Linked DNA regions of Homo sapiens: regions 2, 3 and 4 are each linked to region 1. Evidence: fine-mapped expression QTL. A gene starts in region 1. Each other region holds a variant in brackets. All regions are shown on one strand. Distances are from middle to middle.

Region 1 (8,105 bases):
CACAAATGTAAAATACAATTAAACATTCCAGGTACTGATTTTCAAATTGCCATGTATTATATAGTTTCCCTCAAGAAAACCATGTACATTTGGTGTTCATTCCTGGTGTTTTAGAAATAACAATGATAGTTCTTTCTAAAACATTTGAATTTATACCACTGTGATGTTATGATCCCATTTATGCTATTACATGTCTCATAGGCAAACATTTCTTAAATGTTTAGTTTTCAGACAAAAAAGAAAGGAAAGCACTGATGAGTTCCCCTTCTAAGTGAAACCTTCCAATGCCTCTTAGCTCAAGGGAAAGGAAGGGGAAAGAAACTTTGTTGCTTCCAGCAGCAAACAGAGAGGTCAACCTACCAAGCTATAGGGCCAGGCATTGAGCCCTGAACCAGAGAAGCCTTAGAGCCAACTTTGTCCTGCTGCTTTCCCTTGAATATGCCATTTTATTTCCCTGGACCACGGTTTCCTCATCTGTAGAATATAAAGTCCCTTTCAGCTATCAAGGTGCATGCTCTGCTTCAGTATCTGTAAAGTAGAAATACTACTTGCCTCCAACTCTTAGGAAGATAAAGACTAAAAAAGAAATGTTTGGACAAGGCTTTAAGATTACATAATGAAATGGATATAAATAAGACTCATACAGTCACACAGCTAACAGAGACCATAAAGATCTGTCCAGCTAAAGTGAAACGGAACTCTCAATGCACGGGAGGAGACAGCTGGCAGTAGTCTTCTTTTTTAATTTAACTTAATTTTTTTAGAGACAGAGTCTCTCGTTCTGTCACCCAGGCTGCAGTGTAGTGGCAAAATCATAGCTCACTGCAGTCTCAACCTCCCAGGCTCAAGAGATCCTCTCACCTCAGCCTCCTGAGCACCTTGGACTACAGGTGAGTGCGCCATCACAACCAGCTGATTTCTTATTTTTATTTTTTAGAGATGGGGTCTTGCTATGCTGCCTAAGCTGGTCTTGAACTCCTGGGCTCAAGCAATCCTCCTACCTCGGCCTCCCAAAGTGCTGGGATTACAGGCATGAGCCACTGTGCCCAGCCAGGTCATTTTTATGCCACTTTCTTCAGGGCTTCCTGTGGCTAAGAGGGAAAGTAGACTGATAGCATGGATGAGGTGACAGCCCAGGCACTGGCCCCAGGCTTTCTGAGGGACAGCCGGCATTAGGTTTTTCTCCATGCACTGTCCTACAGGTATAGAATTCATGTCCTCCACTGGTGTACATTGCAGACTAAATAAAACATGTCATATAACAACCTCCTTTCCAAAGCTAAACTCCAGGCATGCCTGAGTTCAAGAGGTCACCCAGCAGGGAAGCTCCACTGTCTGGTGAGAAGAGGGCCTCCACTGCTAGGCAGTGGCAAGAAGCCATGCCGGTTACCTCCTCTGAGCCTTCCTTTTCTCATCTGTCAAATGGGGACAGTAGTAGATCCTACATTATAGGGATGTGTGGAGGATTTTAAATGAGTACTGATGCACGTTAAGCCCTCAGAACAGTGCTTGGCACACACCCAGAGTTTGGTAGATGCTACCTAACATCAATATTGACATTAATTCTAGAACTATGTAGAGGATACGACTTCAATAAGAAAACAATCAGTCAGAAGCAGTGGCAGAAGGGAGGGTCCTGAAATCCAGAGTCCTCCTGCAGAGATGCAGCTGCCACTCCTCGCCTCTGACACTTGCAGACATTCGGAGAGAAAGCCGTCTGCAAGGTGACAGAGGGCGGACTGGAAGAACACAAGGAACCCAGGGATGCTGATGGAGCATGGAAAACCGCAGCAGAAGGCACTGAGGCAAGGTGTGCCCTCCAGGCGGGGCAGGCTGTGGCTGGGCAGAGCGCCTGCCAGGGAGAAGTAGGGCAAAGGGAAGAAAGCACCTGTGGGAGAAACATGGGGAAACAAGGAAGAAACCTGCATATGCACGGGAGCACAAATAAGGAAGGAGATGGGAGAACTGGGTGGAGGCAGATGGCAAACGTGGGGGCCAAGGGAGGTAGATGAGAATTAGGATATGGGATAATAAGACAAAGCCACATGAAACTCTAAAGTGCGGGAGGAGGGCAGAGAACAGGGAGGGTGCATGACAGGCACCCCGAGAATAATGCAGTGAGGAAGTTTGCAAGACGGGGGAGGGGGACATTAGGAAAAAAGGAGAATTTGTTGGGAAAGGTGGAAAAAGAAAAGGAGTGAGATTTCTCCGCCTGTTAGCAAGGGGAATAAAGGAGAGCAAATCGCTGGGTGACCAGGAAAGGTTCACAGAGAAGAAAACACGAGGCAGCAAAAACCGAAGGTGGGGACAGAGAAAATGCTGGCAGGGGGAGGTGCATAATATAAGGCTATGGGAAGCCATGGGAACAAGAGCTGAATAAATTCACAGTATTATTCTATTTATCCACATCCCTATGCAATGCTGGGAAGCAAATGACCCACAGGGTTTTGTTTGCTTGCTTTGGTTTGGTTTTCCTGCACTTGGAGGGAGGGGAAATTTGCTCAAGCTCTGTAACCTTGCAGTCAGATGGGTGGCCCAGCCCAAGTCACCCGAGCTCCCCCTGACGCTGGCAGCAGCGCGGGCTTCTACCTGCCTGGGGCTGGAGTACCAATTCCCCCACCTCCTGCACAGAATGGGACCAAACCAACTCCGCCAATGCATTCCCTGCAGTCCACAGACGATGGGCACCGGGTCCCAAAATCTTTCCCCTGGGACGAGACTCCGCTGGTACCAAGAGAAACTTGCTTTCTAAACTAAGCTCTCCAACCGCATCGCTCCGGGTCCCCGGAGGCACCAGCCACGCCACCCGATGGAGCAGAGCGTTACAGGGCTCCGCCGCGCCAGGCTCCCCAGACTCTGCCACCCCCACGGCCGCCCCTGTAGGCCAGGCCCCGCGAGCTGGGAGCGCGGGTGAAGTTACAAGGCGACCTCCCTGCAGGCTTCCGGCTGGAAACGGCCTTTTGCGAGAACACCACGTGCATGTCCTCCCAAAAGCGATGGTGCCGGGTGGCCCAGAGGGCGCAGAGCCACCGCCGGGCAGGGAGCGGGCGCACGGACCTAACAGGTGAGCACCCGGTAGCCTCCACCGGCGGGGGAAGCAGAGGCCAAGCAGCTGGGAGCTGGACATCCCGAAGCCCCGAGGCAGTCCACTGGGACTCAAATCCTCCCGATATTCTACCTAACAGCCCATGCCCGCGCCCGCCCGGCAGAGCCGCGCGCCCGAAGCCGTCTTACCTCCTGCGGCGCCTCTTGGCGGAGCCTACAAAGTCAGCGTGTCCAACACGTCCCTGCCCTCAGAGCCACCTCCGGTGCCGGCGGAGCCCCGAGGTCGCCGCACTCTCGGAGGAGCCTGGGATCCAGTGCGCGCCCTCGGAGCTAGCGACCGGCAGGGCGATCGCGGGAGAAAGCGCAACGCACACTCTCCTCCCGCGCCGCGGCAGCACACTCAGCCAAGCCACGCCCCAGCCCCGCTCCCCACCAGGCCACGCCCCCAGCCCGGCTCTTCCCCCCGCCCCATATCAGGCCACGCCCCCGGTTAGCTCACTCCCTCAGGCCACACCCTCGGCCACGCCCCCACACTACCAACCACAGCCGGGGACCCCACCCATCAAAAACAGTTCCCCGGCCAGGCGCAGTGGCTCTTGCCTGTAATCCTAGCACTTTTGGAGGCCGAGGTGGGCGGATCACCTGAGGTCAGGAATTTGAGAGCAGCTTGGCCAACATGGTGAAACCCCGTCTCTAATAAAAATAAAAATTAACCGGGCGTGGTGACAGGCGCCTGTGATCCCAGCTACTCAGGAGGCTAAGGCAGGAGAATCACTTGAACCCGAGAGGCGGAGGTTGCAGTGTGCCGAGATCGCGCCACTGCACTCCAACCTGGAGGACACAGCCAGACTCCGTTTTTTAAAAAAAGAAACAAACAAAAATAGTTCCCTCAGCCACCAGCCAGCCCCCACCCCCCAGGGCGGGAAGAGGAGTCTCATCTCCGGGGCAACCGTGCCCCACTGCCCACTGCCTGGGCCAGAAGTTCACTCCCTGTGAAAGGAAAACGCAGGGTAGGGATTTTTAAACCTACATGTTTCCCAGGGCCTGGGGCAAGTCTTGAGTAGACTGTTGCAGTAAACCGACTCAAAGGCCTATCACCTTTCTTGTGAGGCTCAAGGCCTAATCATTAATTGACATGAAAACCACAGAAGAGAAGCAAACCCTTCTGTGCTGGGATCTGTGCCCCAGTGCTCCATGTTCCCTGATAGGCAGCTAATGGAATTCATAAAATAAATGCATGCTTTCTACCAGTGTAGTTTTTTAGATGATTCATTTAGTGGCCAGCACTATTATTTATAAATGTCTATTGTCTTTTATAATCAAAGAACAATACCCACAATCTGTAAAATAAAAAACAAAAATTATATTACCCAATGAAAAGTGAAAATTAATTTTATGTATGTTTTTTAAAATATTGAAAAAACTCTGTATGACATTATAATGGTGGCTTCATGTCATTATGCATTTCTCAAAACTCACAGAATGAACAGCATGCGGCGTGAGCCTCCTGTAAGTAATGGACTTAGTTCATCTTAATGTAACAACATGGGCCCATCAATCATAACACATGTGCCACTCGAATGTAAGATGTCAGTACAAGCAGCTGTGTGTGGAGGGAGGGGCGTGAGGGAGTACATCAGAACTCCGTGTACTTTCCATTCCTGTTTTCTAAACCTAAAACTGCTCTAAAAATAGTCTATTAATTAAAGCACACTCCAAGATTAATGATAATTATCTGTGGGTGGTGGAAATATGGGCAAATTTTATTTAATTCTTTGAATTGTTATTGAAATTACCCCAAGTTTTAACAATGACCATGTATTTTTAAAGCTGAAAAAATATAAAAACCAAACCTTGGAAAATTTTAGAAACATAGTATGTGAGGCTAATATCATTGACTGTTCCATTTTATTTCTACTCTATAAAAAATCTGCACAAAGCACTCACAAATGCTAAAATGAAATCTATGTTAGTATTATTTAAAAAAAAATATCACGGTCTAAATTGAGGGTTTTTTTATTATCTCTTTAGAATTAGCACAAATCTGAGGAGCAGATTTTGATTTTTCTTTTAAAAAAATTGTGTTTCAAAAGGTTATTTCTGCCTACTTGGAAACCACTATTAACATTTACATGCAATACTTTTTATAGTGAAGAAAGCACTATATTTGAAACTATGTCCTTGGGAAACAGGCCTGGCCCTCAGATGAATGGATTTCTGTGGAGTGATACCAACTAGACCTGAAGACCCCCGCATCCTTGAGGCCCTGTACAAGCCCTGGGCGAGTGCTGGACCTTGCTGAATCTCAGCTTCCTCGTCAGTGAGCCGGTGACAGTGGGACCTCACTCTGCATTGGGTGGAGAATTAAAACTTTAGCCCATGTAAGACTCTTACTATCTATCAACTTAGCACATACAGGTGCTTGCTGATTGTTTGTTTGTGAGTTTTAAAAAATATTTTTTTCAGGGTTTCAGTGAAAACCTTTTGAGCGCCTGGGATAAAAGATATGTCTGGGTTCAGATTACAAATCTATTAGAGGAAGGCAGGATGGCTCAAGAGAAAATTCACTGATCTGACATGAAGAGGCGGCGCAGTCCAACCTGGCTCTAACCAGCTGTGTTCATCACGGGAGTACATCACCAGCCGACGCTTATTCTTGCTTTTCCATTCTGTTAAGTCAGAGATTAGGACGAGCAATAGCTAAATTTCCTTCCATTTCTACCATTCCTGCGGGAATCACAATGTGGCCTCTGTGTAAAAGCCTAGGTCTCCCGCAGTGGCTTTCTGTCAACATGGCTCTCTATCCACATGGCCGCCATCACTCACAGCCTCGCAGACAAGGCCGGCATCTGCATTCTGTTGTTTCCTGCAAGTGGGAACCTCCAAAGGTCGGTGACCTCTTTTCTTCTCTGCTGATCTTTTGGTACTCAAGACTCTAACTGGAGCCTGAATATTCAAAACTTTCACCCAAGTTCGTCCTAACAACACTGATGCTTTCTGCAGGAGAGTGTCTAAGGATAGAAACTACCACCTCTCACTAAGTCTAACGCGCTTTTTTTGTTGTTGTTCCACATAACATCTCCAAAACTAGAATGTGTCTTTCCCTTAATATTTGTTGGACACTTATGCCACGTTGTTTACATTCATCATTTTCTTAAATCCTCAAGACAATCCTTGAGGTACAGTTATCCTTCTCATTTTATATATGGGGCAAATGAAGTTAGAAGGGTTGAACGAATCATCTGAGGTCACACAGCTGGTGAGCAGTGGAGCCAGGATTTGATCTCATGCTCCTGTTTGAAAATGCTCTGAACAAAGCAGTGCTGTGAGCTCCCCCAGGGTTGGGGAGAAGCAATGCTGTATTCCATCTGCTGAAAGTTCCATTCAGCAGGGGTTTCTCAAGAGGTACAGGGCAGAAAGGAAACTCCTTTCTCCTCATTTCAGTTTTTTTTCTTTGAGGAGCTCCTATAAAGTAACCCGTATGGCTTCCGCCCCACCCTCTACTGCAGAAAAAGGAGTTACCAGCCGGGCACGTGGCTCACGCCTGTAATCCCAGCACTTTGGGAGGCCAAGACGGGCAGATCACGAGGTCAGGAGATCGAGACCATCCTGGCTAACACGGTGAAACCCCGTCTCTACTAAAAATACAAAAAAAATTAGCCGGGCGTGGTGGCGGGCGCCTGTAGTCCCAGCTACTCCGGAGGCTAAGGCAGAAGAATGGCGTGAACCCGGGAGGCGGAGCTTGCAGTGAGCCGCGATCGCGCCCCTGCACTCCAGCCTGGGTGACAGAGCGAGACTCCATCTCAAAAAAATATATTAAAAAGAAAAAAAAGAAAAAGGAGTTACCTGACTGGTTGGAGAAATCCATTGGTAGACTCCCTTGATAGAATAACCTGATTTATTAATTTATTAACAGCACAGAGTATTCACTCTTTTTTAACCTTTCCGCCCAGACTACGGCTGGGAGAAATCTGCGGTCAGTGTCTGGATGCCACAGACCAGACTTTCACCTGGAGGAAGTAACTTAAGGTCTAGACCGGGTTAGGGAAGCAGAGGCAAAGGAGCTGGGAGGTCACTCAGAGATCATTAGCAACAATTGTGCACTCATTCTCCAGATGATTTTGTCAGTAATATCACTGACATTTTTATCTTCATCTAGCAGCCTCCAGCATCTTGTTGGTTGTGAAGGTGGCAGGGGACAAAAGGGGGTTGGTTGAACCACAGATGCCTCTGGCACATAAGGCAAGACCCAAGAGAGCAGGAGAGAACCTGAGCCTCTTCTGCTCTCTGTCCATGTGGGTTCTAGGAAAACTTCATAACCTCACTTTGACCGGCTCCTTATCTGTGATATCTTATGGTGAAAATTAAGTGTAATAATGTATGTAAAGTCCCAGCTCACTGCCTGGCACGTGGTCAAATGCTCAATAACTGGTGGCTATCATTGATTAGAATGGATAAGGTGCGTTTGCTATATTTTATTCTACAGTTTACTAGAGCAGATCTCTCTCTAATTTGAAGCTTCCTAGGATGACAGAATAATGTTTGGCATTTATCACATTATCTTAGCACATAAGTATCTATTTGGCTATTGGGGTGCTGGGAAACCCAATTAATTGAGGCACAGAGAGGAAAGCATTTTGCCTCCAGGAATGGGTCATCAAGGCCAAAGGACTAGAGTACAGATGGGGTGGGCCAGGAGCCAGATCCAGTGTGCCATCTACGGTGCCTCCCTGTCTGCTCGGAGACAGGGCCCCCATCACACCTGGGTTTGGAGGGGGGAATACGAATGGGCAGGGCAGCTACAGGCAAAAGAGGAGAATAAACGGTCTCACGCTGTCCTCACAGTTGCTGTGGACAACAGGTATGGCAATTCCTCAAAAATCAAAAAACTAGAATTACCGTATCATCCAGCAATCCCTCTTCTGGGATATACCCAAAAGAACTGAAAGCAGGGACTCGAACAGATATTTGTACACCCACTTTCATAGCAGCAGTATTCACACAGCCACAAGGTGACAGCAACCCAAGTATTCATCAATGGATGGATGAATAAACAAGAT
Region 2 (8,105 bases), 120 kb before region 1:
CCCACGACCCACTCACTGGCAGATCTGATTCAAGTTCCTGAAAGTGTCCAGGATCTGGCTACCTCTTACCCCTCTGCCACCACTCAAGCCTGGGTCCCCTCCCACCACTTAAGCCTGGGTTCCCATCCAGCTTCGGGCTCCCTCCAGCAGCCCCTCCTGGTCTCCCTGCTGCCACCCCTGCCCCCGGCAGGCCATAGCTGCCAGAGCGATGCTGCCAAACCATTCCTAGACTGGATTGTGTCACTCCTCTGCTCAGAATCATCCACAGGGGAGACAGCCAAAGTTCTTGAGACCTCTCCCCAGATACACTGTGCCTCCCACCCCTCTCCAACCAATGGGCTCTTGGCTGCAAAGACCGCAGGCACTCCTTGCCCAGGGCCGCTGCTCCGTGTGCCTGACAGCCCTCCCCAGGTACACACACACTGGCTCCCTCTCTCACCTTCACCATACCACTCAAAACCACAACCCTCACTCTCACTCCACTGTCTCCCCTGGTTTAGTTTTCTCCATAGCATTTGTCACCGTCTATAATGTATTCTGTTCACTATCCAGAATGTAAGCTCCAGAAAGGCAGTAATTCTTGTCTGCTTTATTCTTAACTGTGTTCCTGCCTGGCATACATGGGAGGCAGGGAAGGAAGGAAGGAAGGGAGGGAGGGAGGGAGGGAGGGAAGGAGGGAAGGAAGGAAGGAGGGAAGGAAGGAAGGAAGGAAAGAGGGAAGGAAGGAAGGAAGGAAGGAAGGAAGGAAGGAAGGAAGGAAGGAAGGAAAGAAAAACAGCATGTGGACTTCATGCAAGGCTTTGGGGTCAGATGAACTTGCCTTCAAATGATAGCGATGCACATTTTTTTTCTTTTCTATATTTTTCTTTTTTGAGTATGAGTCCTTGGTCAAGTTTCTTTCTTTGTTTTTTCACCTGTTGAATGTGGATGATAAAACCCATCTCTCAGGGTTGTTTATACATTCTGAACAAGTACTTGTTATTGGTGTGCTTTGAGCCTCAAGTGGAATGATGATACATGAAAGCACCCTGTAAATTGAAAAACAGTATAGAATTGCAAGATGTGGCTGGGCGTGGTAGCTCATGCTTGTAATCCCAGCACTTTGGAAGACTGAGGCAGGAGGATCCCTTGAGCCCAGGAGTTTGGGACCAAGCTGGGCAACATAATAAGACCCATCTCTATAAATTAAAAAAAAATTAAAAATAGAATTGCAAGATGTTATTTTATCAGGTGCCTATAATGTGCTAGGCACTGATTTAAGCTGTGGAGATGAACCGGCTCATATAATCCTCATGACAATGCTACATGGGAGGTACTGTCAGTTGTCCCCACTTGCAGATGAGGAAACTCAAGTCCCAATAACACACAGCTGTGTGCAGCAGGCTCAGGCCATCTAACTCTTACCCACTGGGCAGAACTGTCTCCTCCAGCAGTAGCTGTTACTTGTAATAAGACAAAATGATATTAAAAACAGTGTTAGTATCCAAATCTGTGTGTTTTGCTCCCATTCTGGAGAGCAGCCGTATGTCCTGCCCTCCGTTCCCTCACTAACCCTTCCTTCCAACTACCAATCCCTGCTCCCAGTGGGGCCTGTCAAGGACCTGATTCCATTTTCTGGTTGTATCCTTTTCCCTTCACCACCCTAACTACTTTCACGATTTTAAAGTCCCTTAAAGTTAATGACTCCTGTGTTCCTGTCCCATAATTCAAGTGTGTTTTATGGAGTGGGATTTCTCAGTGTCTGATGTCTAGACAGGAAGAATCTTTGTGCTATGCTTTGATGCTTCGTCCAGGCCTGGTGGTTTTCTATGATTCCCCACGCTTACTGTCTAGGTCGCTTACCATCTTAAAGGACAGGACAGACTTAAAGGAAAGGACAGACGTTTGATTTTTGTCTTCCCAGCCCCTAGCATAGTACCTGGCATACAGAAGGCACTCAGTATGTGATTTCCAATTGAACTGCAAATTGCTGATGTGGAAACTGAGGTTCCAAGAAGTTGAGTCATTTATCAGGGCTATACAGGGGCTGGGTCCGAACCAGGATAGGAACCCAGGTCTCTCTGACTCCCACCCCTGTGCTCATCTGAGATTCTAGCTAGAAAAATCCCTCAGCCAGTCTTCATGACTCTGTTTCCCTCCCCAAGCCATCCTATATATTACTTCCAAGGTGAACTTCTTCTTTTTTTTTTTTTTTTTTTGAGACGGAGTCTTGCTCTGTTGCCCAGGCTGGAGTGCAATGGCGCGATCTCGGGTCACTGCAAGCTCCGCCTCCTAGGTTCACGCCATTCTCCTGCCTCAGCCTCCCGAGTAGCTGGGACTACAGGCGCCCGCCACCACACCCAGCTAATTTTTTGTATTTTTAGTAGAGACGTGGTTTCACCATGTTAGCCAGGATGGTCTCGATCTCCTGACCTTGTGATCCGCCCGCCTCGGCCTCCCAAAGTGCTAGGATTACAGGCGTAAGCCACCGCGCCCGGCCCAAGGTGAACTTCTTAAAACAGTGGTTTTATGATGTCACAAGAAATGACATGCGAGTTGTCTATTGCTTCATAACAAAATTCTTTTACGGTATATCTTCTCTGTAATCTGACTCCACTCTACTTGAACACTTTTTAAAGTGTCACATACTCTCAGTAGACATTGTTCAATTGAATTACGAATTGCTGATGGGGAAATAGCAATTTGCAGTTCAGCTGAAAAATCTTAGATGTAGTAGTCCACAGCGTGTCAATGCCAGCTCTGCTGGGCAGAGTTCCTCACAATGGCCAGACCCACAGGCCGGTGCTGCTGCCTTCTTCACCTCTACATGTTCCATTCCTCACTAACTTCAATAGGCTTTGAACCTCAACTACAGATGAAAGTTAATAATGATGACTTCTTATCTAAGGGAATTTTGACGCTGTAAAGCTATTATAAATTCTCAAAATGTATGTCACCAAAATCAGGAGAAATGAATGTATTATAATAATTAAAAAGTAAATTTTATTGTTTCTTTCTTCCTTTCTTTTACCATCTTAACCCTTTTTAAGCACACAGTTCCAGTTCAGCAGTGTCAAGTATATTCACACTCTTGTACGACAGAACTTTTTCATCTTGCAGAACGGCCACACATATTAAACACCAACTTCCTCTTCTTCCTCTCCTGTTCCTTGGCAACCACCTTTCCACTTTCTGTTTCTATGATGTTGACTACTTTAGATACTTCATATGAATGGGATCATACAGTATATGTCCTTTTATGGCTGGTTCATTTCACTAAGCATAATGTCCTTGACATCCATTCATGTGTACCAAGTGTTAGAACTTCCTTCTTTTTAAACACTATATAATATTCCATTGTTTGGTTAGCACTTCCATTGATTTTTAAAAAAGGAAAAAACCAAAAATATTCCATTGTGAGTATACACACCACATTCTGTTTACCTGTTTGTGGGTGAACATTTGGGCTCCTTTTACTACTTGGCTATTGTGAGTAATGTGCTACTATCTTTTTGAGACCCTGCTTACAACTCTTTAGCATACTTGATCAAATGGTAGTTCTAGTTTTAATTTTTGGAGGACTCTCCATACTGTTTTCCACATGGCTGCATCATTTCACATTCCCACCAACAGTGCGCAACAGTTCCAATTTCTCCACATTCTCACCAACCGTAGTTTCTTTTGTTGAAAAAATTGGTGTGGAAAAAACATTTTTTGGGGGAGGGGTGAGGGACAAGGTCTTGCTCTGTCGCCCAGGCTGGAGTGCTGTGGCGCGATCTCAGCTCACTGCAGCCTTTGCCTCCAGGGTTCCAGAGATTCTCCTGCCTAAGACTACCGAGTAGCTGAGATTACAGGTGCGTGCCATCACATCCAGCTAATTTTTGTATTTTTAGTAGAGATGGGGTTTCGCCATGTTGGCCAGGCTGGTCTCAAACTCCTGACCTCAGGTGATCCACCTGCCTTGGCTTCCCAAAGTGCTGGGATTACAGGCGTGAGCCACTGCACCTTGCCCAAAAAGCCATTTTTGGAAACGATCTTGTAAACAAGAAGCAAAGACTGCTCCAAATTGAAATCAGTTTTAAAACCCCAAATGCCTACATACAATCAATATGAGAGCAGACAGAGCAGGCTCTTTCTACAACACTTCCCGCAGCTTCAGTCAGGTAGAAGGAGCACACCCTTGGTCATCAAAACTGCGTGCTGACCATCAGCGCCTCTCTGACTGGGGACAATTCCAAGAGAACACATCTGTTCCACAGAGTACTATCAATTCCAAAAATGTAATAAAGTGAATTTATAATGCTCTTGTTCAATAACCATGGTTAACCATCACTCCTAGAAACACTGCCCTCTGGGGGCCCCTGATTCCTGGGGCTGCATTGGTCCTTCCCCAGTCCATCCCTTACACAAATGTCTCATTTTCCTCCCCCTCTCTGCTTTCCTCCTGGCTGCAGCTGTCAGTGAGTAGAATGCCCCAGTCCCCATTTTCAGCCCTGGCCACTTTTAGCTTTAGGAACTACTACAGAGAACAATGTGGTAGCCATAGAGGAGGTGTCATTTTTTTAAATTGGAAGGATTGTTACAAATACAGTTAGAGAAGACATCAGGAAAAAAAAAGCCCCTGACTGATAAGTGGGGGAGGGTAGTCCTGGTGAGGGTGTGATAACAGGGTGGAGGTTGAGGTGTTCTGTTAAA[T/G]GAAAGGGAGGTGAGATCTAACACAGCCCTTAAACATCAGGCACTTGACAACAAGGAGACATAGATTTAGCTATTTTCATGAGGCACTCTCCAACACTGCCTAGCTAATGAGCAGCTGGTTCCCGACCAGCATCTCCCACCCAGCATCACTCCTTGGTGGGGAATTTCCCCTCCCTTGACTTCAGGGAAATTCCCCCACCCTTAAAATAATCTGCTAAAATCATGTATTTGAGAAAACCTCTTGCTGATGGCTCAGACTTCCTCAGAGTTGAGATAAGCCATTCTGACTTCCCATCTTAAAAACAGAAATGGCAAGCCCAGGCGGGCAGCTCGTGTTCACAGCTGGGAGCAGCTGTCACGGGCTGCTGCTCTGTGGGCTGAAACTATGGGTGAACCCCAAGAGCTCAGGCCACGGAGATGCACACAGAGGGAAAGAGCTGGGTCACAGGAACTGACAACGTCAAAACATGATGCACAATTTCCAGGGTCCATCCCCCTTCAGTGGTTCCCAAACACCCAGGGCCTGTGGCATCTAATCACATGGAAAATGTTTAGAAAAATAAAGATCCTCCCCTGCCCTGGGCCACTGAGTCAGGTTGGGTGGTGGTAGTGGGGAAGGATGTTGGCTGAGAATTTATTTTGAAAAGCTCCTCAAATGATTCTGACACCTGGAAAAATTTGGGAACCACTGGACCTTCAGGTTAAGCTTACTTAAACCACACCACATGCTCAGGTTGTTCTAGGACATATGCCTTTTGTTGCCTGTCCATGCAGCAAGCCACAAGTTGCAGGCAATGGATTCTGATTGCATTGGCTGGAAACCTCTGCGTTAGCCAATGTGTACCACTGAATGTTCCTTATTCCAACGAATAGGACAAAATCCTTCCATCCGTCCACGCTGACCTCTCCGCCTGGAGCAACTTTCCCACCCAAAACAGCCCATCAAATTCTGGCTCATCCCTCAAAAGTTTAACCATTGGCCGGGCGCAGTGGCTCATGCCTGTAATCTCAGCACTTTAGGAGGCTGAGGCAGGAGGATTGCTTGAGGCCAGGAGTTCAAGACCAGCCTGGGCAACATAGCAAGATCCCATCTCTATTTAAAAATAAACTTAAGGAAACAAAAACCAACCAAACAACAAACAAAAGTTGTAACCATCATTGCTTGGTGACGGTTCCATGACTTATTTTTCAGTTCCCTGATCCTCTGCCATAACAATATCTGCCTTTGATGTTCTATAAACATGTTAGACTAACCTCTTTTAAAATATGTATCGCATTTACATTATAGTTATTATTAAGTTTATATCTGTCCCTTTATATCCTGTCCCTACTCTTATCCTAGCTATGACTTTCTCAAGGACAAGGAACATGCTTAATAGTCAGTGTTGGGTGACTGAATTAAAGTATGAAATATGTTTCATGTTCCAGAATGTAAACTGTTAGTGTTGGAAAAGTCACTAGTATATCTAATCTAGACTTTCAAGCCATTCTTCACAAATAGTATTTTTCAATCTTTTAAACATGTGGACAACAATAAGATCAAAAGGAATCCTAGAAACTGACATATTAACTCTCACTAATAATCTGTTATTAATGTCTAAGGAGCTTTGAAGAATCATTCTCTTAATGTATAGCTTCACATCAGTATTCAACTTAGGGCCCTGCACCCTGGGCAGCCAACACCCCATTGGCTCCAGACCCCACAACCAAGCCAGCAGCTCCACTCCCTCCTGCTCTCAAAACTCAGCCTCTGTCCCGTCTCCAGTTCAGAGCTGGGGCGTCGTTGGCTCTGGGCTTCTTTGTATCTTGCGGTGAGCTCTTAGGTTTTACCTTTGACTTGTCCCACAGTGCCTGTCTTCTGTTCCTAGCCAGGAGCTGCTCGTCCTGGGGCTGCTGGCTCTGAGCACGGCTCCTCCCGTCCATCCTGGCTGACACCTGCCGATCCATCCTGGGCCCTCTCCTCTGCTCTGCCGCTCCCTGACAGCTCTCTGGGCTGGTGTCTCGTCAGCCCTCCCAGTTTCTGACGGCTGCCCAACTGGCTGGACAGACCTGAGCAATCACCCATCCGGCTTCCTGGCATCTTAATGTGCGCCAGGCACTGCGCTCAGCGCTGGAATAAATCCTCTTGAGAGCCTCACAAGCATCTTGGAGTGTTGCTGTCTGGTTATGAAGGAGGAAACCGTGGCTCAAAGATGTTAAGTAACTTTCCCCAAGTTGCGGGGCTGGATTCAAAGCCAGGTGTGTCTGCCAGCAAAGCGATCCTGCTATGAGCCTGTCTCAGGCTCGGCTTCAACTCACACTGACAGGAGAACAGGACAGGACAGCATAAGATGGCAGACAACCCATAAACCCGCCCTCCCTGACATGGCGTCCTCCTGGGAGCCACTAGGCAGTCCCTCAGGGTCTTTCAGAGCCCCACAACCCCTCCCCTGCCCCCTGCCCTCTCAGAGCTCTCAAAGGAAAGAAAACCCACCATAGGCAAGCTTTATTATTTGTTTTAAATATGGTGCTTGTTGTCATTTTATTACATGTATTCACTCAGTATAGCGCATATAGGAGTGGCAACAGTTTCCGCAGTGCACTGACCCAGGCCCCTCTCAGAGAGGCAGGTGAGGGACTGCTGTAGAGGGTCAAGGCCGCAGAGGGCAGATTCTGGCATGCTGTTTCTCCAGCAGCACCGAGGGAGCACCGCTCAGAGCTGGAGGCTGGGTCGGGCTTCCCTCGGCCTCCCCTGTGTGGAAGGCGGTGGAGGAATGCTGGAGGAGAGCCAGGGGCCACCTGCCCCCCACCCCTGCCCGTTCGTGCTGGCTGCACTCCCGGTGGGAATGAACACGCCCCTGCTCAAGGCCATGGGTGCAGGAACCCTGGGAGGGAGCACCCGCACGTCCGCTTCCTCCACCCAGGTCTTGCCAGTGCCGTCTCGCTAGCATTACCGAGCCCTCTCACTCATGTGGTCTGTGTTCTCAATATAGAAATCGCCAGGCAACTTTTTTTTTCCTTTTTCTAAATTTTGGCTCGTAAAATGGAGTACACACCAGTCTTGTTTTGATAATCCACCAGACACAGAAGCCGTAACCACATCCCTGCTTTCTGTCTGTCAGCAGCACAGAAACCAATCAAAACAAGGAAGAAAGCACAGACTACAAACTGTACTGCTCTGACAGGGCCCCAGGCTGCCTCGAGCTGCCATCTACGGTTCCCATTCATTTCAGGCGAGGCGCTGGCATCTATTTAGGGCAAAAACAGAGACAAGATCTGTTTCTAAAGCATCCTATTGTATCCATGTAGTGCAGCCAGGGAAAAGCCTGTCTGTGAAGTCTTGTTTTTTCTTACTTCCTTTTCAGAATGTGAGGATTAGAGTTTATGGCTTCCTAGTGTGAGAGTACAAAGTTTCTTTCACATTTAAATAGTCCAAATAGTCCAATACTCAC
Region 3 (8,105 bases), 91 kb before region 1:
TTGACCTGTGAAATCTCTGGTTGTGCTGTTAACTGATCTCGGGGTCCCCAGGAACAAAACAGATGAGTGATTCCACAAAGGTACCACAACATTGTGTAGGAGGAACTCTCCAGGGCTGGCAAGCAGAGCCCGACCTGAGCCACCATGACAGAGAAGACAAGGGAGGGCCCTCACTCAACTCCCAGACTCAGGCCTCTTGATGGAGCAGAGCCAGGGAGCCTCAGGGTAGGCATCCTACTACAAGTCTTCTTCCTAGCTTCTCAAAGAGAACTCCTACCATCAGCCTGGTGACTGTGTCCTCAGGACAGGGAAACTCCCGGCGGCAAATGTAAGCAATACTCTTCCCAAGCCTTTCTGAGTAGGAGAGATGGCTTTGGCAAGGCAAGGATTTAGCTCGTGCGCACTCCTGGTTAGGAGCTAATGGCCTGGCTGAATGGCCTGGAGGAATGTGGAAAGAACAAGATGGGCTGAGGATGGGTTTGGGGAAGGAGTATAACTGGCTACCTCAGAATACCCGCAGAGCATGAGATGATGTCCATCCTACATGAATCCTTATTGCAAGAGAGGCTAATCAATCATCATGTGGACATGCTGTCCCAATGTGCAGCTAGATGCCAGTCTTCCTTCCTAGTCATCTTGATACTTGCTCAGTGGGTTCATAAAAAGGAAAAAAAAAAAGAAGCAAGCAAGAAAAAGGCCATGGTGGCAAAAATGGATGCCAAGCCTGGGCTAAACCACAGGAAGTCTGGGCCTTCCCCTCAACAAAGCTGATGATACGGTTCCCCGCAGGAACCAGACAGCCCCTTGCGGAAAGCTGATTGCAGTGGGGCCTTTTCATAATAGAGGGGGTGGTGATTTGTCCCTACTGGAAGGGCCACTTATGCTGGGCTTGGATTTGTTTTCCTGCACTCTGTGGATCCTCTAGAAGGCCCCTATCCTGTCGCAGCATCTCACACGCCATCCAGGCCCAGAACGTCACAGAGAAGGAAGCACATGACCCCATCACACCCAATAACAACCAAATAAAAATGAAGTTACAGAGGCAGCTGGGAGACACACCCAGAAGTTGCCATACTGCCCTGGATGGGACGCAAGCTCTGAAGCAGTGACTAATTTGGAGAGGCTGGCCCACAGCAGAAGATGCAGGGCCGGAAACCAAGGGTAAACATAGAAGCGGCTTCTTAGGATTACTTAATAATATACTTGCAAAATGTTTTCTTCCCACCTAGGAACTCTGCTCTGTTGAAACTGAATTTAGTGCCCAAGGGAGAAGTACTTCCTCCAGAGTTCACAGTCCTGGCCACAGTGAATCAGAACCAAGGCTGGCCATTTTTGCCTCTTCGTACCACTGGGAAAATGAGCACCCACGGAAAATGGGGATGGCTTTTGTGGTCACTGCTACCATATTTCTCAAATGGACTAATGCAATCGCCTTCAAATCAATCTCCATTCCTCTTCCTTTCCCCCCACAAACTGCCCTCCCTCTCTAAGCATAAACCGGAACATAATATGCTCCTGCTGCCAATGGCTTCACACCACACTTAGAACAAGCTCAGCCTCCTCATGACCTGCAGAGCCCTTTCCAGCCTCAGCCCACCTCCCAGCCTGCAACATCCTCGTCTGCCTCTTGCTCCCTGAGCTCCTGTCACTGTGGCCTCCTTGCTGAACCTCAGACACATCATGTTTCCTGCCTGTCTTTGGGCTTCTGGTGCTCCTTCGGCTAGGACTTCTCCTCCCTCGGATCTCTGCCTCACTGCCTCCTACTCACCTGTCCCCAGCGTCACCTCCTTGGAGAGGAGGCTATCTCCCCCACCTGCTCCTACTCCTCACATTACCCAAAGTCATCTTCTGCAGGGCCGTCACTGGTGCCTTGGTGCATCCTACATATTGACTTATGGAATCTGTTCAAATGCTGAAATGTAAACTTTGCATGACGTTTTATTCTCCACAGCATCCCAAATTCTCTATTTCCTTCCTTTCCCTGCCTTGCCATTCTGGTAGGGATGTGTTGCTTAAATCTGCCTCTAGTTAATCAACGCTGAAGAGGCACTGCATGGAACTGGAGGACTAGTTATCCTAAGAGGTCCTAGACTTGGAGGTGTCTGCTGCCACTGATGAGGATCTGGGTGTCTCCTTCTAGGGAAGAGAGAGAGGGTTCATGGAACAGGTGCATCCTGTTCATTAGAGTGTCATTAGAATAACACTCTTTGGAAATGAATGCTCTCTATCCTGTTTTATTTTTCTTTATAGTACTGTCTGCTCTGTTAAATACTTACTTGGCCTGTCTTCACATATAGAAGGCAAGGGTCCCTGGAGACAGACACCCCACCCTTCTTCCTGTTCCAGTACCACCAGGTGGTGGACATATCACCTAAGCTCGGACAGCTGAATCTTCCATCCTGGGACCTGAACCCCTGGGTGAGTGACAGAAAGACAGTCACTAACTCCTAATAAGTTAACTCCTTATTATAACTCCTCCCCAAATAAGTATACACTTCTTCAAGATAGGGTCTTTAATTAAATGTTTTGTATTTTCAAAGCGCTCACTGGATACCCAGATAAAGTGCTCACTGGATACCTCACTAGCTCCTGGGACAGTGCCATGGCCAGTCTCCCATCACACACCTTCCGGTGGCTCCTCCACTCCCAGGAGTGAGCCTGGATGCCATCCCTTCCCTAGCCTGGTTCCCCAGCCATCCCATCAATTCTGGGCACACCTGGCCCCCTTCCAATAAATTCCCTTTTTGCTTAAGACAGCCAGAGTTAGGTTTTGTTGCTTTTCGACAAAAGAACGCTAAAATTAAAACATTTTTAACATAACAACAAAAACCAGTGTTACAGAAAGCAGGGAAAGGCTGTGTGTACACAGGTACGGGGTGGGAGGAGAAGTGCTCTACATTCCTACCACCCTAACAATGCTACTGTTATTTCTGCCTGTTCTTTCAAAATCTTCTGCCATATGGGTACACGTTGCATATTGTTACAAACATGGTATACGTTTTTGATTGAATTGTGTCCCCCCAAAAGATGGTGAAGTCCTAACCCCCAGTACCCATGAGTGTGACCTTATTTGGAAATAGTCTTAGGTAGATAATCACATTAAGATGAGGTCACTAAGTTGGGCCCACATGCAGTAAGCCTGGTGTCTTTATAAAAAGGGGAAATCTGAACACAGACAGACACAGGGGAGAATGCCATGTGAACATGAAGGCAGAGATGAGGCAATGCTCCTACAGGCCAAGGAACACTGAGGGCACCAGACGCAAGGAAAGCAGCCTGGAGCAGACCCTCCCTCACAGCCCTCAGAAGAAACTGACCCTGCTGACGTGTTGATCTCGGATTTCTAGCCTGGGTCTCGGTTCTTTAGGGATCTCCACATGCAGGAATGTATGTACACGGACACCACAGGAGGGGCAAACTTCTCAAACTTAGAGCCACCAGCCTGGCACACAGAGCATCTACCCCAGACAGCAAATGATGCACCATTCTCCTGAGATGAGCCGTCCTCACTCCCAGACAAACGCGCCCTGGCCCAAGGGAGGCGCGAAGGTGCAGAACCTGCTGCCTCAGGTTAGCTGGAAACGGTCAGATGGGCCCATAGCAGCTCTGAAAGGAAAGGGACTCTGAGACTCACCGTTGGATGCTCTCATCTGCCGCCGGCGTCCCACACGGTCCAACCCAATGGGGGTGCTCTGGGAGAATGTGAAGGGCCGGAACCGGGCCGACACAGCCTTGTAGGGTGGCACCTGGTGAGCAGGCATGGGCGGCCTGGAAGCCGGCTGCAAAAAGAAAGCAAAATCTGTGAGGAGGTACCAGGAAGTGGCAGCTCTTGCAAGCACCTCACACGCATAGCGCTCTCACCTCGAAGCCACTCACAGAC[G/A]TGAAATGGTTTCTCCAATCCTGCCACGAGTTGCAGGCTGCACCGAAGCCCAGTGGCAACTCATGATGCTACAGTTTTTAACAATCCTGATCAGCTTACTGGCCCGCACCCTGCAGCCTCATGTTTCATCTCACTTGTCTGCAACATGCCAATAGGTCACACTAAGGAAAAAGAAGCTTCTGAGAAGATGAAGGCACATTTAGGAAGCAGTGGAGTTGTCACACAGATGCAGGGTCACAAGGGTAAGAAGATGCTTTCCCAGGGGTGGCCTCTGGAGGAAGCCAGGACAAGGCCACAAACCCGGCCAGGGTGGCCATCTGTGATCCTCACATCCTTCTTCAGCCTCATTTACTCCTCCCCACCGACACAGAGCCTGGCATAGATGAGCCCTCAGTAAGGATTTGTGGAGCTGAAGGCAAGCCTTGCTTACCCAAACTCACACGGCAGTGGAGCTTTAGTTGAAAGAAGTGGTTTTCCATGTAGTTGCCCAGGTCTCTCTTATAATGCCCTTCTGGTTTTCTATAATAGCGATCCCTAAAACTATTAATCAAAGGCCCAGTTGCTTTATACGTTCCTTAGATTTCTTTTTTTCTTCTTTTGTTTATTACATGCATATCCTGCTTATGTAATTCCTTAGGTTTTCTTACAATTTTCCCACTCAATTCCCTACATTAGGTTATAGTACAGAAAATTACTTCGCACATTCCTTTTGGCTGCTCTGAAGTGAAACCCTTTCTAAGGCTGTGGAGCATCCTGGACTATTGTTCTGAGTTAAAATGCGTGACAATTTGCTTCAGTACAGAATCATTTCCCAACAGCGGAGCACCTTCAGACAAAAGGTTCTTAACATTTTCATGATATTCTGCAACTTAATTTTTTAACCTTAAGAAATCAATTCAATTTATTTAAGCAAGAGTTTTTGAGTGCTTGTTATAGACAAGGCATTGTGTGGGGCTTTACAGGAAAAATGTAGACGTATACAATCCAGTACTAGTACTCCATAGGAGTTCCCTTTTAAGATAATTTTATGGGTTACTTACGACATCAGCTACCAGGTTTTAAAAATGAAAGTGGGCATATATATTACTCATATATTGTTCTGTGAATGTTTACCATGGCCAAGGTATTAGCCTCCACAAATAAGTATACACTTCTCCAAGATAGGGTCTTTAATTAAATGTTTTGTATTTTCAAAGTGCTCACTGGATACCCGGATAAATATTTGTTGAATTACTAAACTATACTAAGAAACCAGTACTAAGTGTTTAATCCATTGTCAAACTATTAATAGTTGCAAAGTTGCAACTCAAAAAAAAAATAAGAAAATGGTGGAAAACAAAATACTTTCTCATCTCCTAAAAAACTATTTCTTCTTTACATTTTATTTATTTCTTCTTTACATTTTATCTTTACATTTTAACAATGAACAATACTGTCTTTTTCAACAATTACTTCTTTCAGGAGTCTTACTAAATATGCCCTGCTACCTTTCCCTGGTTAGAATCTCAGGTTATTCAGAAACAAACAGCAAATGAGTCTCATGTATTATTTGAGATCCCAGGAAAGAAAGATTAGCAAAAGGCATCCAAACGTCAGGTGGTTAGTTTGAATTCATGCATGTTTTCACACAGTCAGGAAGAAAAGGTGGTTAAGTACATGGTGCCGCCCTTGAGAACGGGAGAGAAAAAGCAGATCCAGTTTAGTGTGCAGACAGAATAGAGGCAGGAAGCTGGAGGGCCTCTGCTGGCTTGGGGAAGTGCACACCAGATCTTACTTGGGTCAGAAGATTGTCCAGTTCCTCCGTCTGGTTGGTCCCATACAAGCTGACCCCACCTATCACGGAAATGGGGCGCCTTCTCCGGGCTCCTTTGGGGCAGCCCACTGGAGCATTCTGGTCTTCAGGGCTGGCAGAAGTCATGCTTGCCTGGGGGTCCTCGTCCACACGGTCTTCCTTCTGGGGGTCTGCAGCAACCGAGTCTTCAGGAATAGACAAACTGCGGCTGGCCAGCTGGCCGTAGTCAGAGAATGGCCGAGGCCTTGGCCGTCTCCCAGAGCCCCATCTCCTCTTGGGGGTTCTCTGTGCCTCTGTCCTTTCCTCATCCTGTGATGAGCTTCGCCTCCAGGGGCCATCAGGGACGACCTTTCAAATGCGAACAGGTCAGGTGAGCTCAATATCCAGGAAGGTATTAAAGAAAGAACAAGCCATACATTCCCTCTCACCACCACAGCCGTGCCTCGGGTTTTCTTGATTTACTTGTTTATTAAAACAGTTATTTGTGTACTAGAACATGAAGACACAACCAAACCTTAATCAAAATAACCAAATCTATTCTTATAGGCTGATTCAATAGGCTGATTCTAGGCTGATATTTCAATAACCATAATTGAAATAGTGGTTTGGTGACCAATGATGAGCTATGATAAAAGGCATTAAGAAAATCAGCACTGGCCGGATGCGGTGGCTCATGCCTGTAATCCTAGCACTCTGGGAGGCCGAGGCAGGCAGATCACTTGAGGTCAGGAGTTCAAGACCAGCCTGGGCAACATGCAGAAACCCCATCTCTACCAAAAATATAAAAATTAGCGGGGCGCGGTGGCGCGTGTCTGTAGTCCCACCTACTTGGGAGGCTGAGACAGGAGAATTGCTTGATCCTGGGAGGCAAAAGTTGCAGTTGCACCACCACACTCCAGCCTGGGTGAAAGAGCACGGCTCTTTCTCAAAAAAAAAAAAAAGAAAATCAGCACCATCGTGAATTAGTAAAATGAACTTTATAACTATCATAGGTGTCCCCCAAAGACCTGCCAGGAGAAGAAATGAATGGGTAATGCCATCCACTGCTGTTCTACCCACTTCTTTCAATAACGTGCACTACTTAAAAATAGAAGGTGCTTTAAGAGGACTAAGTCCAGGGCTGTCAGGACCCAACACTCGAGCAGCCTCTGGCTCCCACCAACAGCCTCCAGGCAGCAGTCTGATGGGGCGAGCACTGAACGAGGATTCAAAGAACTAGACTAGGCTACTCACTAGTGGTGTGAGCTGGGACAAGTCACAACTGACCTTTCTGGATCTCAGATTTTGGACTGGACAATCCCACAGCTCAAGAGTCTATGATCCTAAATGAGGCATCACCTTCTAATTTTTTCAGATAATTTTTCAGAGGCAACACAATGTACCAGAAAAGCACATGATGCTGGGAATCGAGCAGACATGTTCAGTCACTGTGTCTGGCCCAAGACCTAGTGCAATCTCAGGCAAGTCACCTAACTTCTGTGATCTGGCTCTGCAGCCATTCCCTGGGAAACAGCAGGTCCTTAGAAGGATGAGACGCAACAATGGTGAGACAGCTCTTATGGCAGGAGTTCTTTGCTGCTCTGAAAAAGCTGGGCCATGGAGTAACCATTCCCAGGGATCAGGCCTGATGAGAGAGCAGTTGTCTGAGCAGACCCCTCAAAGCCTGGCCAGAGAGGAGGGCTGCGTCAGAGACCTGCAGGAGTGGAGGCCTGTAAGCCCTGCCTGCATGCCCTCCGTCTTCCACCCCTGAACCTTACCTACAGATATAAACAAAAAGGGCTGTCAGTCAGGCCATGGGCCCAGGGAGGACAACCAGAACCACCAGAGAAGGCAGACTATGACTGCAGGAGTCCCTGGGAGCTCACAGAGCTTGTGCCGCAGCCCACCGGCTCCCTCCTTGAGAAACCAAAATGGTGGCTGGTAGAGGCAAAGGAGGCACACCTCCAGCCAGTGACAAGAGACCCCGGGCCCCAGGCTCGCCATTTCCAGCCTGAGGGTCTGAATGCTCACTGAGGCCACGTGCCATGAAGAAGTGGATGCAGAGCCCGGGCGGGTGGCTCACGTCCGTAATCCCAGCACTTTGGGAGGCCAAGATGGGCAGATCACTTGAGATCAGGAGTTTGAGACCAGCTGGCCAACATGGTGAAACCCTGTCTCTACTAAAATACAAAAAAATTAGCCAGGTGTGGTGACAGGTGCCTGTAATCCCAGCTACTTGGGGGGCTGAGGCGGCAGGAGAGTCACTTGAACACGGGAGGTGGAAGTTGCAGTGGGCTGAAATTGCACCACTGCACTCCAGCCCGGGTGACAGAAGGAGACTCTGTCTCAAAAAAAAAAAAAAAAAAAGTGAATGTGGAGCAAAGAGCACAGTGTGGGGTTTATAGATACTTTACTCCAACCACTCATTTTTCAAATCAGGAAAACTGGGACCTA
Region 4 (8,105 bases), 140 kb before region 1:
AAGTTTCTTCTCTCCCTGACAAGTAATAGTGCAGAAATACTCCCCCTAACTCCAGGTAATTATGCTGTTCTATTCTGACTGGGACACCAAGTTGATCTGCATGAAGGAGTATCAGCAATTTGGCTTGCAGAGATTTCCACCTGATAAAATGCTGGTTCAGCTGGCTTTTACAAAATACTTATATTGTGAACCAAATTTTGAATTAAATGCACTTTGCTTTATGTCTAGATAACAGTCATGTAGGATGGGGGGATTTTCTGAATAAGAATGGCATCGGTTTTCATCTAGGCTAGGTATAAAAAGGCACAATATTCAGAAATAGTGTTTGATGGTGGTGAAATGTTTTCAACTACAAAATCAGATCTACAGTGGGAAACAAAAATCAGATCTAATGAAAAGAAACCATGTGGCTGGTATCCCAGGGAAGCTCCAGCATACTACTGCTGCCCTCTTTCTAGTCCGCAGGCCAAAGACAAAGAAATCTACTGCTCCAGGATTCTGCAAACATTCAATTTTATGATTTTATAATTGCTTTTAATCTACGGCAGGGTTTTTATATGTTTTAGGTATGATCACAATTGAAAAGGTTGCTTTTGACCCAAGGCTACTTCAATTATCTTCTAACAAAGTCGACCAATTCTGAAACGTGAAGAATGGAATAGGTGAAATTCATCAAAATGTTATGTCATCTTTTCTTTTCTTGGCCCATCTATAATATTATGTAAAGTAAGGTTAAAAAGAGAGAAAGGCATAGAGGCGGGAGAGAGCAAGATTCCCAATGAAATTCATACACTGTCCATGGAGGAGGCTCTCTGTTCCCTTTCTTTCCAAGTGGAACACGTGACTCAAATCAGGAAGGAAGTTTGGCAAATGGAAGATGAGAATACTTGAGCCTTCCATTCTTGAAGAACTCAGGCATGTGGTAATAAAACCCAAGCCAGACATGCAGATTTTCAAGAAGTCAAAGGATGTTCTAGCCTTTTAAAAATGTTAGCAGTTTTCAAAATCACCTGAACATCCAAGTAGGATCCACCCAGGAGAGATCTTTAATGGAGTGACCCTCACACTCTATAAAACTGACAGGGGCAACGAATTGAACCTGACTTAACAAAAACACATCCTGGTATTCATAAGTCTCTGTTAGGAAGTCCGTGGAGGTAGGTGGGAGCCGGAAGTTAGGGCTCAGCTGGAAAATAAATTAGGACTGGCCACAAAATGCAAACCATTTCTTCATTACCCATGAATAAATATTAGGAAATGGAAGTCCTAAGAATGACTCTTAAACTGAATCCTCACTGAAAATGTAACACAAGCAAATGATTCTCTTTACTTCCTTAAACTAATTCTCTTATATTACATTTAAAACAATTTGTTCAAAATTGCTGTACATACAAACAACTCTAGCAGAGACCCCTACAGTTATTGCTAAGGTGTGCAGGAAAAGCATATTAAGTAGTTTCCAACATATATCATTGTATTTTGTTAGTAAAAAGGTCAGTTCTATAAACACATCTAAAGTTGGAATGTCTGTTCAAGAAGGAAACATACACACACACACCCCCACACATGCCACAGGACCTCTCCAGAAGCTCCTTCCTGCAGCAACTTCTGTCTCAGGACGTGCCGAGCGGCATGATGGTCCACAGAAGCAACTCGGGCTGTCAGCCATGGGGCACCTGAACCCTTAGCAGTGCTGCCTGTAAGCATGTGTGCCAAGGTGGCTCAGAATGGACATCAGGCGGTCACAGAATGTTCCAAGGGTTCACCTGAGGACCAAGGTTATGTTTTCTTGATGCATGATGTCACTCTCAGGAACGGCTCTGGATGTGGGGGGCTGCAGGGGAGAAGGGAGGTGCCACACACCTGCAGACTGAAGAATACACCTTTGTCTCTGACATCACAGACTTGTTTATTCTCAAACATGGGCCTGTTAGAAAAAAAAAAACTGCAGGGATAGCATACAAAAATGAGCTTCTCATATAGATATCCATTAACAGTTTAACACAGCATCTCCTGTCCAGGGCACTGAGCGGGTTGAAAGGGCACCTCTCTTGCAGAGCCTGCCTTCTCTAGACATAGTTAAAAGTTATATCATGAAAATGTACAACATAGACAAAGAAAAGGAGATGATTATCTGCAGGTGTCAGCCTAGGTGGCCTTTGTTAATAAAGACTGCTATCTCTAAGCCAAGATATTTTGTGAAGGTCTTTTTTTATAAAGAACAAGTCCTCAGAAGCCTGATGACATGCTCACGTGACATGGTTATGCCCTGTTTGGCTTTATATGTGATAAAGGCAGCTTCTGATTTCCAAGAAGCAGGACTGCTTTGGCTGTCTTTGTGACTTCATTGCTAAGGACGATGTCAGGAGCAGTGCGGCTCTTTGAGAGTGCCTTCTGACCAGTGCATTTTCATATTCACTGTATCATAAATATTACAGTAAATGAGCTTTTTATATTGCAAACAGTTGTTTGAATGTTTTTTGTTTTTGTTTTTGTTTTTGGAGACAGTCTCGCTGTATCTCCCAGGCTGGAGTGCAGTGGTGCGATCTCAGCTCACTGCAACCTCCGCTTCCCAGATTCAAAAGATTCTCCTACCTCAGCCTTCCCAGTAGCTGGGATTACAGGCATGCGCCACCATGCCCAGCTAATTTTTGTATTATTAGTAGAGACTGGGCTTTGCCATATTGGCCACGCTTGTCTCGAACTCCTGACCTCAGGTGATCCACCTGCCTTGGCCTCCCAAAGTGCTGGGATTACAGGCATGAGCCACAGCACCCAGCCTTGCATAGCAGTTTCTTAGGTTACAGCATGTGGGCAAGATGTGATTTCTGCTCGGAGTTACTGAAGGCGTGCAGGCAGGAGGGAATCCGACTCCGGGACAAAGCCAGTGTGCAGCAGGATTTCTCCCTCCTTGCCTGAAAAGCAGTGGATTCTTGAGGATGCGTAAGTTGCTCTGCACTGAGGACCCTGATGAAGGTGACAGATGCATCTTCTTTCTCTCCACTTTGCTTGCAGGAAGAGGAACCTTGCAGGATGACATTTGCACTACCAGTTAGCATCTGTGTGGACACAGACGATGCCAGGGAACACCGTGGTCAGCCCCACGGCAGCTGTAGGTCCCCCAGTATTACAGAAGAGAGTAAGAGCTCAATTTCTAAGTGTGACCAGACACGTGCAGCATTGTGTCAACCCCGTCTTGACGGCATCCTTGAAAATCAAATGCAGAAGTGATCCTCTAACCTCATCACTCCTTAGGAACTGCAAAGCCCTGGATGCTGTGTTTGGACCTGCAGCAGGCACTTGCTCATCATCAGCAGGGGTGGCTTCAGCTGCTGCCTAATCACTCGCTTTAGAGCATGGTACCGGGTCCCACATCTGGGCCATCTCATAGTGGGTCACGGGTGTTTCTGTGTAGGATAAAGCTTTGTGTCATGACCGTCTCCTCCCTTCCACAAAGGCAGCTGGGTCTCCAAAGACTGAAGGTGATTCCAAGACCTTCTCTCCTTCATTGATCCCTAAAAGGAAGTTTTTATCACTGGGTCCAAGAAACTTTCCCTGGATTGAAGCACACAAGAAACAAAGACAGTTCTTCTCTTGACACCCAGCTCCATGGAAGCACAGCCTCCTGTTTTCATTTCCGGAAGGGGGTGAGCCTGTTGAAGGTGTGCCAGAAGAGCGAGGACTTCCTCTTGGGTTCCGCCAGGCCAAAGACCTGCTGCTGGGGGACGCTTGTGGGCATAGTGATGTGGCGCTGGTGGATGGGGTGCAGGCCCTGGTGCGGTGGGGCCACAGGGCACCTGTTGTAGCCTGACTCGGGAGGGGAGAGAGATGGAACAGGGACTGAGGGTCGCTTGTTAACCAGAAAGGAAAAAAATAAAAATGCTGAGACTCCAAGTCCAAGTTCTCAGCTAATTCTTTTTTTTTTTTTTTTTTTTTTTTTTTTTTGAGACAGGGTCTTACTGTCACCCAGGCTGGAGTGCAGTGGTGTGATCTTGGATCACTGCAATCTCTACCTCCCAGGCTCAAGCGATCCTCCCACCTCAGCCTCCTAAGTAGCTGGACCTACAGGTGTGTGCCACCACGCCCAGCTAATTTTTATATTTTTTTGTAGAGAGCTAATTCTTAATTCACGTTAACCAAAAAGAAGGTCCAGTAGCTACACTTGTTATGTTCAGGTACTCCGTGTGGAGCGTGACACAGTCTCTCTCACTGAACTCTCCCAAAAAGCCTCCAAGGAGGGTATTATGACAACAACTTGACAGGGAAAGAAACTGAATGCCAGGACGTGCAGCGGGAAGTGGCAGAATCTGAACCAGACTGACAGTCAAGGTGAGTAGCAATAAAATGCTCTAAATGGAAGTCTGGAGCTCATGCTGCCTTGGCCCAAATTCTTCTGTGCCATTTATCAGCTGGGATTACTGGGGAAATGATATGATTTCTCTACGCCTTGGTTCCCCAATCCCTAAAACGGG[G/A]ATTACAGTACCTATGGGGTTGCTATGAGAATTAAATGAATTAATAGAAGTAAAGTGCTTAGAACTGTGCCCTCAATATCTAATCACTCTAATCAAAACTTCACCGGCATAGGTATTTTTAATCTGTGCAGAGGTAATTTAGAAGGTTTATTAAAATTAGCGATTAGATTAAAACGTAACTGTGTAAGTCAGCATGGCACGAAGAGGGTGGGCCCTGAAAGCAGGAAGGCCTTGGCTCAGAACCCGTCCCTGCCCCTGGCCTGCCAGAAGGCTCTCCCTACCTCCCGAGGTGGCAGGAAGGAAGAAATCAGATAACCCAGGCACAGCGTCCCACCCGGTAGCCACCTGTGAACGTCAGCAGTCCTTCCGTTCTTGAGAAGCCTGGCTGCTGGGCGAGTGACTCGCAGAAGATATGGACAGAAAACAATGTATTCTAACAAATTGATTTACTAGTCATCTGACATTAGAAGTGGAGATTTAAAAAAATTAATAACATGGGTTTTTCTGCCTTAAAGATATTTGTAACTTAGTGGGGAAAAGAAATTCTGCATTTGCATGGAGAAAGCAGGGGAGTGTTAAGTGTGGTTTGGGGAATCAGTTCTTCACTGACTAAAGGTCAGTGGTCTATTGCAGTCCTGGGATTCGTTGGTCCTTGTTTTTGCATTTGCAGTCAGGAAAATACCAAAAGAGATACATTTCATGGGGTAAATGCCTTTTAAAGTAGAAAGATGACGGGAATAAAGTTTCTAAGAATACAGTGCATATTTTTTGGGGAAAAATCCTTATTACTGAATTCCTGTTGGGCCAGATTATCTGCATCCTGTTGGGCCAGATTTGTGTGGACAAATCTTAGTGCATCAGAGCCCCTGGGTATGCGGCCTGGGCATCAGCATTTTTGAACAGCTTCCCCAGGGAATTCTAATGTGCATGGAGATTAGGGAATCACCGCCCTAAATCAGCTCACGTGTCTTTTTTTGTCTAACTCCTTGCCTGATGTACCGAACCTTTACATCTTTTTCTTACTTAAACTAGACTATATCCAGCCTACAGCTGACAAGCAGTTTGGGGTTTGAGATTTTGTCCTCTCATGCCTAAAAGATGCAAGAGTCCTTGGTTTGCCTCAGACTGGGGATGTGCGTGACCTTGTGGCTAACACCATCAGCACTTGGGGGAGGGGAGCAGAGGGGCCCCAGGCAGGCAAGGAGGTCCACCACCCTCCAGCAGCCCCTCTGAAGGTTTCCTATGCCCACATTCCAATGGAAGCAAACACTGACGCACATTCAAAACCAAACACAGGCCACCTTCACCTGGCCCCTGTTCTGGACCTGCCCTTGAGTTCTAACTTCTACTGTTCTCCTTGCTCCAAGCTGGTCACAGGCTGACAACTTGGGGTATGCTCCCATTTTCAGGAGAATACTGATAAGCATTAAGGGGACAAAGCCTTCTCCATAACTTACCTTTTGACTTTCCATGTCCTGCCTTTTGAGCATTTAACATGGCAAGTTTCTTCTGGTTTTCTGAAATTTCCATTCCTGCATTTAGAAATAAATGTGATATATATTCAGAACACGTGGACATGTTTCAGAGCAAAACTTGTATCACAGCCCATATCAGCATTGAGGTTATCACCACAACCTGAGACAGAGAACCTTAATCCTCAAAGAACGTGGACAGGTTGAAGATCAGAAAAGGGGAAGTCACAAGGATTATCGCCAAGGTGGCCATGTGATTGTCCTGCAAACCCGGACAGTTTGGAGAGTGAAATGGGGTGGTGCTCATGAGAATGCAGAATGTCTGTGTGAAGCCCGACGCTCCCGGGCAAATATTCCCACAGGGTCATCCCAATTATAACCTAAAGGATGAGGCCCCAGAAGGAGAGGACAGAGCAAAGGGTCCCAGGGCGTGTTCACCCATACGCTATGAGAGCTTTGCACGTTAGCAGTTCCACCCTGAACAAAGGTACCACGTGAGTAGCAGGTAGCGGATTCTGTACCCCAGCTGTGTGTAGTGTGTGCCCTGAGCATTCCCTCACTGTAAAGTCCAGTAGCACAGTGACAGTGTACGTGTGCAGTGTGTGAACTGGGTGAAACAAGAGTCACTGGAAAGACAAGATGAGGCAACCCTTGGCTTCGCAGGGTGTGGGGAAGGAGAAGGAAGGACAGAGCTGAATGGCCAGGGCTGGGTGCTGGGGCCCTGCCTTCTCCCGCGGGAAGCCTTCCTCCTGTAGGCAGGTACTCGCTCCAGCTTGGCAGAGCTGACCCAGGCCCTGTGTCTGCTAGCTTGCACTGCCTGGCTCGCTCCCGAGGCTCCCTCTCTACCTCTGCCCACTCTGCTCCCCTGGCCCTGATTCCTTCACATGCCCAACATCTGTCCCAGACTGTCCTGACGTCAGGCTCAGGCTCTGTACGCTGGCCACCGGGCTGTCCCTGCCTCCAAGGCCCTCCGTGTCCATTCTCTCTGATCTGCTACCTGAAGCTTCTACCCACACACATGCATCAAGTACGAGGGCTGCCAAAATATTCGAGGCAAGGAATGCATCCAGTTTTATCCCACACGTGCCAGTTCACAGACTTACTGGCTCAGGAGTGCCTCAGTCATGCACTTGCATCTCTGAGCACTGGCCACAGGGAGCATTACATGGCAAAGGGCACCACATCGGGCCCCTCCTTTCCTTCCTATTGAGAGACACTGTTGAAAGCACATAGGATGCCCCCACTAAATAGTGCCGTCTTTGGGAATCCAAACACTCTGACTTACAGATGACTTCAGGGCCTGCGCTAGACAACGTCATATGACGACTAAAACTAAGATTTTGTGGCTCTGTCATTTTGCATTTTAGTAACTGTCATCTTCAAATGAATTCTGGGCACGAGTGATTAGCCCTATTCCAATGGGGCCCCAGAGTCTGCACCAATAATCTATGGCTGTTGCTGGGAATCAGATTTCCTCTTAGTGTAAAGGACACCCTGACACTTGGTGTAAGGGGCTGCCTGTGATGTGGGGAGCTCTGTATCTTGGAGTGGCCCAAGTCCAGGCCAATGTCTACCCATTGAGTGTTTCCAAGTCGATCCCTGCTTCCGTTTTAGCCTGACCAACTTGTAAATCCCTCCAACTCTACTGCAGAATCTCACAAAACCTCCTGTGGGTGAGACCAAATTCTGTAGCCAAGCTTAGAGCCAGTGGCTGGGGAGGACAGAAAAAGCACCTCCTGGTTTTTAGTCCTGCTGTCCTCATGGCAGTGGGCAAGGATGGGGAGGGGCGTATGCTGGCTCCCCTCCGTCCTGGACCATGACTTTTGAGGGCTGGGCTCACTTGGGCTGCAGAGATGAATATCCTTCACTGTGGCTCCCTGACTTCCATTCAACAGATTGTGCTCAAAACCCTAAAGAGCTTGGGAGGCAATGAAATAGAGGCTCAGAGACTGTGGGTGCTGCCATCATTAATGCCAGGCATGGCAGCTTCAGTCTCAGGGGCCACACTGCACCTCCAGGTCAGCAGAAGCTGGGAAGACAAACCAAAGAAGTACAAATGTAACACTGGGTGTGAAGTACCATCGCCTTAACTGCAATGGACGATGCGGCATCCTGAGTTTCATAGGGAGAGATGGGAAGCATGAGGGCAGGCTGCTGGGTG

What was found. PIP is the estimated chance that this variant, and not a neighbour inherited with it, causes the effect.
Region 2: its variant is fine-mapped to the expression of SPATA13 in monocytes (TOPMed, PIP above 0.99).
Region 3: its variant is fine-mapped to the expression of SPATA13 in whole blood (TOPMed, PIP 0.98).
Region 4: its variant is fine-mapped to the expression of SPATA13 in whole blood (INTERVAL, PIP 0.91).

What each region holds. Positions count from the first base shown.
Region 1 is chr13:24,156,062-24,164,166 of GRCh38, reverse strand. It overlaps SPATA13 (spermatogenesis associated 13), which reads right to left and starts at 3,447. Exons shown (of 13, transcript NM_001166271.3): 1 at 3,235-3,447. It overlaps MIR2276 (microRNA 2276), which reads right to left and starts at 1,751; the gene lies at 1,663-1,751. RefSeq lists a silencer at 3,497-3,556.
Region 2 is chr13:24,271,537-24,279,641 of GRCh38, reverse strand. All of the region lies in intron 4 of SPATA13 (spermatogenesis associated 13), which reads right to left. Among named protein-coding and RNA genes, the nearest start is that of SPATA13-AS1, 21 kb to the right of the region's middle. RefSeq lists enhancers at 4,372-4,431, 4,732-5,021. The variant T/G (reference allele first, on the strand shown) is at 4,675.
Region 3 is chr13:24,247,392-24,255,496 of GRCh38, reverse strand. It overlaps SPATA13 (spermatogenesis associated 13), which reads right to left. Exons shown (of 13, transcript NM_001166271.3): 3 at 5,655-6,020; 4 at 3,635-3,779. SPATA13-AS1 (SPATA13 antisense RNA 1) reads left to right here and starts at 1,058. Exons shown (of 3, transcript NR_046531.1): 1 at 1,058-1,161; 2 at 2,298-2,418; 3 at 2,541-2,748. RefSeq lists enhancers at 3,635-3,769, 7,101-7,600. The variant G/A (reference allele first, on the strand shown) is at 3,881.
Region 4 is chr13:24,298,300-24,306,404 of GRCh38, reverse strand. It overlaps SPATA13 (spermatogenesis associated 13), which reads right to left. Exons shown (of 13, transcript NM_001166271.3): 12 at 5,930-6,004; 13 at 1-3,807. The coding sequence ends at 3,632. Among named protein-coding and RNA genes, the nearest start is that of C1QTNF9, 7.2 kb to the left of the region's middle. The variant G/A (reference allele first, on the strand shown) is at 4,473.